2 linked regions of the Homo sapiens genome follow. The protein of the gene in region 2 purifies or fractionates together with the protein of the main gene of each other region. This does not show direct contact. Each region holds a gene or a part of one and is shown on either strand. Other genes may lie near its edges.

Region 1 (3,750 bases), on a different chromosome or scaffold from region 2:
TGTGTTTGTGTGGAGGGAAGGGCGGTTGTTGGGGAAAATACATTCTTACATTTTTTTATTCATTCATACTTTTAAAAAAACTATTTCGTATTTAAATTTTACTCTGACAATAATGGTATATAAAAAATATCGGGGCTCTTTTTAAAGGAACAACAACCAAAACCCTCATAGGAAAAGACAGGGTCCATCTTGTTAGCATACGTGTTGGTTAAGAGTGCTGCCTCTGGAACCAGGCTGTGTTCAGCTGGAACTCTGTACCTATTTTCTCATCTGTAAAATGGGAATAATAATAGTGACCATCTCAATTACAGTGAATATTAAAAGAGTTAATATATGTAAAGCAGAGCAGTGCCTGGCAATTGACAAGTGAGAACTGTGGCTACTATTATTACCGTTATTAACATACCTTCATGAGCTGGGCCCTCTTGGTGTGCAGTATTTACTTTGTAAGTCTGAGACACCTGGGAGAGCAGATTTTATTCTAACAAACCTCTCCATAGTGATAAACATCTTCACCAAAAGGCTAATGTTTAATGGTAATGTTTTAAAAATGGCTGCATCATTTTGCATAAGTAAACCAGCCATTTATAGTTTCTGTCGTGGATGCTTAAATACTTTACCCAGCAGAAAATGGAAATAAGTTAGATACTGATCTGTTGTTTCTTGCTTTTATTTTCCAGGACTCAGAAGGGGTAGAAATTATGTTAGGAGTTTGTGCAAGTGGTCTGTTGATATATCGCGACCGGCTGCGAATAAACAGATTTGCCTGGCCCAAGGTTCTAAAGATTTCATACAAACGGAACAACTTTTACATTAAGATCCGGCCGGGAGAGGTAAGTATACCCACATTTGCCTGTGCGTTGGGAGGAAAGATCCCTGATAGCAAGCAAGCATTTAAATTATCTGCTTATGAGTTCTGAGCATTGTGGGACACAGTGAATGACATCTAAGTGCCTGAGAGAGTTTATTGTAGGTTTGCCCAATAAACAGTAATAAATATTCTCTTCTTTATTATATTGTTCCAATATTTCCTACTGCATACGTTAATTGGAGGGTTTTTAAAAACATATTTTAATATAAAATCCAGTCTCGGCCGGGTGCGGTGGCTCACGCCTATAATCCCAGCACTTTGGGAGGCCGGGGGCGGGGTGGGGGCGTGGATCACAAGGTCAGGAGATCGAGACCATCCTGGCTAACACGGTGAAATGCCATCTCTACTAAATATACAAAAAATTAGCCGGGCGTAGTGGCAGGTGCCTATATTCCCAGCTACTCGGGAGGCTGAGGCAGGAGAATGGCGTGAACCCAGGGGGCGGAGCTTGCAGTGAGCCGAGATCGTGCCACTGCACTCCAGCCTGAGCAACAGAGCGAGACTCCGTCTCAAAAAAAAAAAAATTCCAGTATCATTAATAATTTTGTGTATATTTCAAGCAGTAATGGATAAATCTCTTCCTCCACATGCTGTTGTTATTTCTCCATGCTCTTTCTGTTTGTCCTGCAAATCTGGTTGTACTTTAAAGTGAACAGTTTAGAGGTCCTGTACTTCAAGGTACAAGGAATATTAGAACAAAGGACAATTAGTGTGAATTATATCAATGTTCTATAGCTCAATATATGTTTGTTTGTTTGTTTGTTTGTTTTAAGTCAGAGAAGCTAATGAGACAATCAGAATTGTTAACTAGTCCTTACTCCTTGGACAACAGCCTCCATGATCAACTTACGTTTATATCTTCCTTAGTGGTTTGTACATAATAGTAACACATATCTACTCTTATTTACTTAAGAGATAGTTAATAAATACCTCAAATTTCTAATTGGTATGGTTAGTATAACAGAGGCAGTCAAAGCTCAAAGATTCTAGCATACTTATATCTCTGAACATTTTCTGATATGATATAGAATTATCTCTTATCTTCAAAATCTACTTCTCTACTGGAGTTTCTTGGTGGAAAATGCAATTTAAAAAATCAGAATATCGGCTGGGCATGGTGTCTCATGCCTGTAATCCCAGAACTTTGGGAGGCCAAGGGTGGGAGAATCACCTGGGCCCAAGGATTTAAGGCTGCAGTGAGTTTGATCACACCACTGTACCCCAGCCTGGGTGACAGAGCAAAGACCCTGTCTCAAAAATAACAAAAAAATTGAAACATAAAGCATGTAATGATGTTTAGTATGAACATAACATCATACCTATCTATGATAACTGAAATAATCTGTAAGCTTTTCATGTAAATAACTAAAATTATAGTGTTTTAAAAATATTTCCTAAAGATTGTATATTAAACTTATAGCCAATAGATAGTCATTTGACTTCATTGAACATTTGTTAAGTGAGCACCTATTTATTGTCAGACATTAGAAATCTAAAGACAAATATGACCTTGTTCCTTGTTAAGGGATTTTCTATTTAGCAGAAAAACGGACTCATATACTTTGATTGTAACAGCATGATGCAAATGAGATGATATTCTGTAGACATGGAGTGAGCATAGTATTGTGAGATGCCAGAGGGGAGAGCTAGAGAAATGAATCAGTGGACAACTAGTAAGTCATGGGAGGTTTTAAATCAGGATGTGACACAACTAGGTGAATATTTTGGAATGATACATTTCTTAATGAAATTCAACGACTTAGAAACATGATGTGATAAGACCTAAACTAGGGCAGAGGCTGTGGGAATAGACGGGAGGGAACAAATGCAAGAGAGAGGTTTCAGAGGCAGAAGCAGCAGGTCGTAGAGACAGGATAGAGGAAGTAATTAAAAGAGGGAAAAGTCCAGGATAATCAAAGGTTTTCAGTTTGCATGATTGAAGCCAATGGAGATGACATTCGGCAGGAGGGAAAAGGGGGAAAATTTCAGAAAAACAACTGAAATCCCTTTGAAACAGATTTTCAGGGAGTAACTCTTGCATAGGAAGGAGTTGAACAGAGTTATCAACTGTATATATTTTATTCAAGGCCTTAGACATGGAATAAATTACTCAAAGAGCAAGGCAAGTTAGAGAAAGAAAAGGCCCAAAACTAGAACTCTGGATAATACCACTATTTGAGAAAGGGCCAAGGAGCTGAAGAAATGACAGCCAGAGAAATAAAAGAAGAAACAGGCTGATGGATGACCAGGAGATGAGTTTCAGAGGAAAGTGGTTAGCTAGCAGTATCATATGTTACAGAAAGGGCACGCAGGATGTGGACTAACAAAAGTGTGTTGAACTTAACAGTCAGGCCCCATGATGACATTTCAGAGTTCAGAAGGGCAACAGGAGCACCTGCCAGGTGTGTTGAGGTCAGGAGTAGGTAGCAGAGGCAGCAGGTCGTGGCTTCTGCTTCCTAAAGTTTAGCAGTGAGGAGTGAGATGGGGTTGTGGTGCTGGCATAAGCAGGCTCAGAGAGAGCTGGTTTTTCACTCCTCTTCTCTCTGCTTTTACAATCCTATTTACAGCCTGAGAAAAGTGAGTGAGAAGAAATTGGAGACACACAGACTCTGAAGAAGTTGAAAGAAATTGATATAAAACACAGAGAAATAGATATTAATAAACTATTAATACCTATTCAGGTAGTCTAGGAGCCTGCATCATCCTTGCCTACAGAGGTTGGCAGAGACTCTTCCCAGCTTCTTGCAGCAGAGTGCAAGCTGACTCTTCCATATAACCCCTGGCATTGGCGTAATATGTGCATATTAGTTGCAGGATGAATAAATGGATGATGATTTAGTCACAAGCCACACTATGTCTGTCTTGGCTGAGTCCCTTAG
Region 2 (3,750 bases):
CCCAGAACCCCAGGGGCTGGATGCCTCCAATTATCCTGCCAACCCTCTACAAACCAATCACAGCCATCACACCTCTAATTCAGAACTACAAATCAACATTTAGGGTCACAGCCCAGTACCCGGGAAGCCGCCAATTATGGGATAAGGAAAGGGGCAAAATATGCAGGTCTCTGGAGAGACTGAAGCATAAGACAGGTGCTGGGACATTCTTCTCAACCCTCTCTTGGGGAGCCTTCCAGACCACCTCAGCCCTGAGGGGCCTCCATGCACACACCACCTTAACACCCACCTTAAAGGAAAGGTCTCCATTCTCCTCCGAAAGCTGGTTGATTTTGCGATCCATCTGGCTCTTCTCTGTCTTCAGGTCCTGGCACTGCTTCAGGGTTTCATGCAGCCGCATGGTAAGGCTGCGAGGGAGGGAAGCAGTGAGAAGAGAGTATGGGTTCCTGGCTGGGTGAGGGGAGGGGCTGGGGCCTGGGAAGGAATGCAGGGAGAGCTGTACCTCTCATTCTTGTCACGCAGCTCCTCAAGCTCCTTGGGCTCCAGTGGGCTGGCCGCCTGCTTCTCATTCAGCAGGGCTAGGCGGTCAATGCGCTGCTGCATCATGGCTATCTGTGCATCTGCCCAGAGTGGAGGGAGGAGGAGAGGAGAATCAGAACTATGTGCATGAGCGGAACTATGTGCACAGAACTATGTGCACAAGGGGAAGGGAGGAGACGGCATAGGGAAGAGGAGGAATATGGTATCCAATCTAAGGGAAAGAGAAGATGGGGACAAAGACAGAACCTAGCTTCCAGGAGGTCAGCCTGACCACAGGCCCAGGGCTGAGCTCTCAGCTCCAGGGGCCAGCAGAGGGGACAACATGGGAGGCCAGGGGACATCCTTCCGGCAAGTCTATTCACACATCTGCCAGTGTGCCAGCCACCTACCCTTCTCGGTGAGGAGCTTGCGGTTCTCAGCTAGCTCCAGCTCCAGCTCATCCCTATTACTTCTCTCATCAGCAAGCTGCTTCTTCAGCCGTCTCATCTGGAACTGTGGGGTCTGCAGGATATCACCCATGGGAGAAGCTGGAGAACCTGAGAGAAAGCTGAGGAGGGAGAAGGCCCATATGCATTGGTAAGCGCCTAAGATCTGAAGCAATCAGCAACAGGCAGCAGTAAGGGAGCGGGGTCTATGGAAGTGCGCACTAGCAGCTGGGAGGCCTGTGCACCTGGGTTGTTTGCAGTGCTACCTCAAGCCTCATGACATGATCTTGGGAAAACTTTTCTTCTCACTGCCTTAATTTCTTTGTCAGAAAAAAAAAAAGTGATATATTCTCCTTGGCTCTGCAGAGATGTGCTAAGAGAAGAGACTTCATTGTAGTCTCCGAGGAAGAAGGGTATTCCATAAACAGGGAACAGCTTTTGAGGGAGGCCTTCTGCACATGACAAATCCCAACCACTTCCCCCAGTTAATACTGGGTGAGGTGAGGAGATCCCAGATCTACCGGATACTCTAAGCACTCCCAGAGGCTGGTTAACATCTTAACTCTAGAAGTTAGGAATGTGAGGAATGGATGGATGCTGAGGCCCTATCCCAGGAGGAGAGGCCCAGAACATACTTGTTCCCACTGGAAGAGGAGGCAACCTTCTGTAGCTCTAGGAAGCGAATCTCCCTCTTGGCCTGGTGGCTAGGTGGGGAGAGCTCTTCAGGGAATGTGCTAGAACAGGTAGAAGGCACAGGAGCTGGGGGTAAGAAATAGACAAAATAAATCAACAAAGGTTAGTAAGAAGGTGTAAAGATTTGCACCTTTATGCAATTTGAGAACTCGCCTTAGTGGGAGTATATCCATGGATACTTATATGTAAACTACCAAGGAAGGCACTGGGCAGAACCTGAAACCTGGTGCCTGGGTTATCCAGAGTTCCGTGTCTCTAACCAAAATGAAGTGCAGGGCTTCCATTTCTACAGAGCATCATTACTCAGAGCACAGTGGAGTGACGGTGTCCTCTGGCTCAGAAACTGCACCAAGTGCTCAAGCTTTTTCCTCGAGTCCACACTGCAGAGACGGCTTGGGGAGCCCTGAGCAGGATCTCCTTGCAGCCCCCAACAACCTTTCCTATCAGAGCCATTGGCCACCATTTGGAATTCATCCCCCCTGAAGCCTTGCACCTCCAAAATGCCCTCCTCCTCAAAACCCTTCTCTTTCCGTGGTTTCCGTGACCCCTTTTGTAGGACTCTCCTACCTCTAATCACCCATTCTTAAGTCTCCTCATCTGCTCCTCCCTCCTCTACCCACCCTCTAAGCTCCCAGAGATCTGATGGGGCCTCTTGGCTCTGCCCATAGTGCCCACGGCTTCAGTGGCCATCCAATGCTGACTTGCAAACCTATCTTCTGGTCCAGAGCCTGCTCCTGAATTCTGGACTCACATTTCTAACATCTCCACCTGAAGGTCTCATGAGGAACCTGAATACAAGGAACATCAAACTCAACGGCTAGAACTCGCCTAGACCTCCTTCTTACATTCCTATCATCCACCAGCTGACCTCTTCATCAGAAGACCAGCAGAACGATCACTCTTTCTACTGTAGTACCAGCCGAGGCCATTGATATATTCCGTACTTAGATTCCTTATCATTATTTCCTGGTTTATGTATCTGCCTTTCCACCTAGAACATGCACTACATGACGGGAAAAACATTTTTTAAAAGACTGTGGGCCGGGCGCAGTGGCTCATGCCTGTATTCCTAACACTTTGGGAGGCCGAGGCAGGTGGATCACCTGATGTCAGGAGTTCGAGACCAGCCTAATCAACATGGTGAAACCCCGTCTCTACAAAAAATACAAAAATTAGCCAGGTGTGGTGGCATGCGCCTGTAATCCCAGCTACTCGGGAGGCTAAGCAGGAGAATTGCTTGAACACGGGAAGTGGAGATTGCAGTGAGCTGAGATCGCACCACTACACTCCAGCCTGGGCGACAGAGAGAGACTCTGTCTCAAAAAAAAATAAAAATAAAAATAAAAAGACTGTATTCTCAGCTTCTAAGCCTAGAGTAATGATTGTTTAAAAAATAAAAAACAAAAGTAGGTATGATCACTTGTAAATATCCTACATAACTGCTGCCAGGCAGCAAGGAGGAGCTCCATAGGAACTGAGATGATACAACATGGCCCAGAAATCGACCTACTCCATTACACACACTTTTCCTGAGCATCAACTCTGCCTTGTGTTGGGGACAGAAACAAACCCCCACCATACTTGACAACTCAGGATCCTAGTATTCCCCATTTCAGAGATGAGGGGATTCTCAGGAGTGTGTACCTACTTACCTTTCTGTAGGAAGTTCTCTAGGTCCTCATTAAGGTTTAGCCCGTCCTCATGGTCCAGCACAAATTTAAGAATGACAGCCAACTCAGCCTGGGCCACAGGGAGAAAAAGAGCATCACTTAGGTGTTAGGCCTCTGAAGGGATGGCTGCCAGGAGCTCCACCCTGGCAGTGCCAGTCCCCGGCTCCCTCATGCCCTAGGAGCCTGCTGGATCCCATTCTCCCTCTCAGAGCTGAGGTCCTATGACCCAGCCAACAACATTCAACTAGAGATATGTTCACCCCACTTGTCCCCTTCCCTCCCACCTCCCCTCAAGATGTACCGAAGTCAGAGTTCCTGACTGACTTAACTCCTGACCACAAGTGAAGTGACTGTTAAGGAAAGTAACACAATCAGAAAGTTGCTTTTATTGTTATTGTTGTTAAGAAACAAGATCTTGCTCT

Evidence for each region. Proteins that work in one complex are often made in the same cells at the same time.
Region 1: the proteins of NUMA1 (region 2) and EPB41L3 purify together in Homo sapiens (affinity purification with mass spectrometry; 3 studies listed by BioGRID and IntAct, with this or other methods). This does not show direct contact.

Annotation. Positions count from the first base shown.
Region 1 is NC_000018.10:5,425,396-5,429,145, reverse strand, and holds part of EPB41L3 (band 4.1-like protein 3), read left to right. Parts: intron 1-680; coding exon 681-833; intron 834-3,750. UniProt on the Homo sapiens protein: Tumor suppressor that inhibits cell proliferation and promotes apoptosis. Modulates the activity of protein arginine N-methyltransferases, including PRMT3 and PRMT5.
Region 2 is NC_000011.10:72,017,894-72,021,643, forward strand, and holds part of NUMA1 (nuclear mitotic apparatus protein 1), read right to left. Parts: intron 3,399-3,750; coding exon 3,311-3,398; intron 3,027-3,310; exon of another isoform or gene 2,433-3,026; intron 1,725-2,432; coding exon 1,601-1,724; intron 1,117-1,600; exon of another isoform or gene 1,088-1,116; coding exon 930-1,087; intron 621-929; coding exon 503-620; intron 408-502; coding exon 290-407; exon of another isoform or gene 1-289. UniProt on the Homo sapiens protein: Microtubule (MT)-binding protein that plays a role in the formation and maintenance of the spindle poles and the alignement and the segregation of chromosomes during mitotic cell division.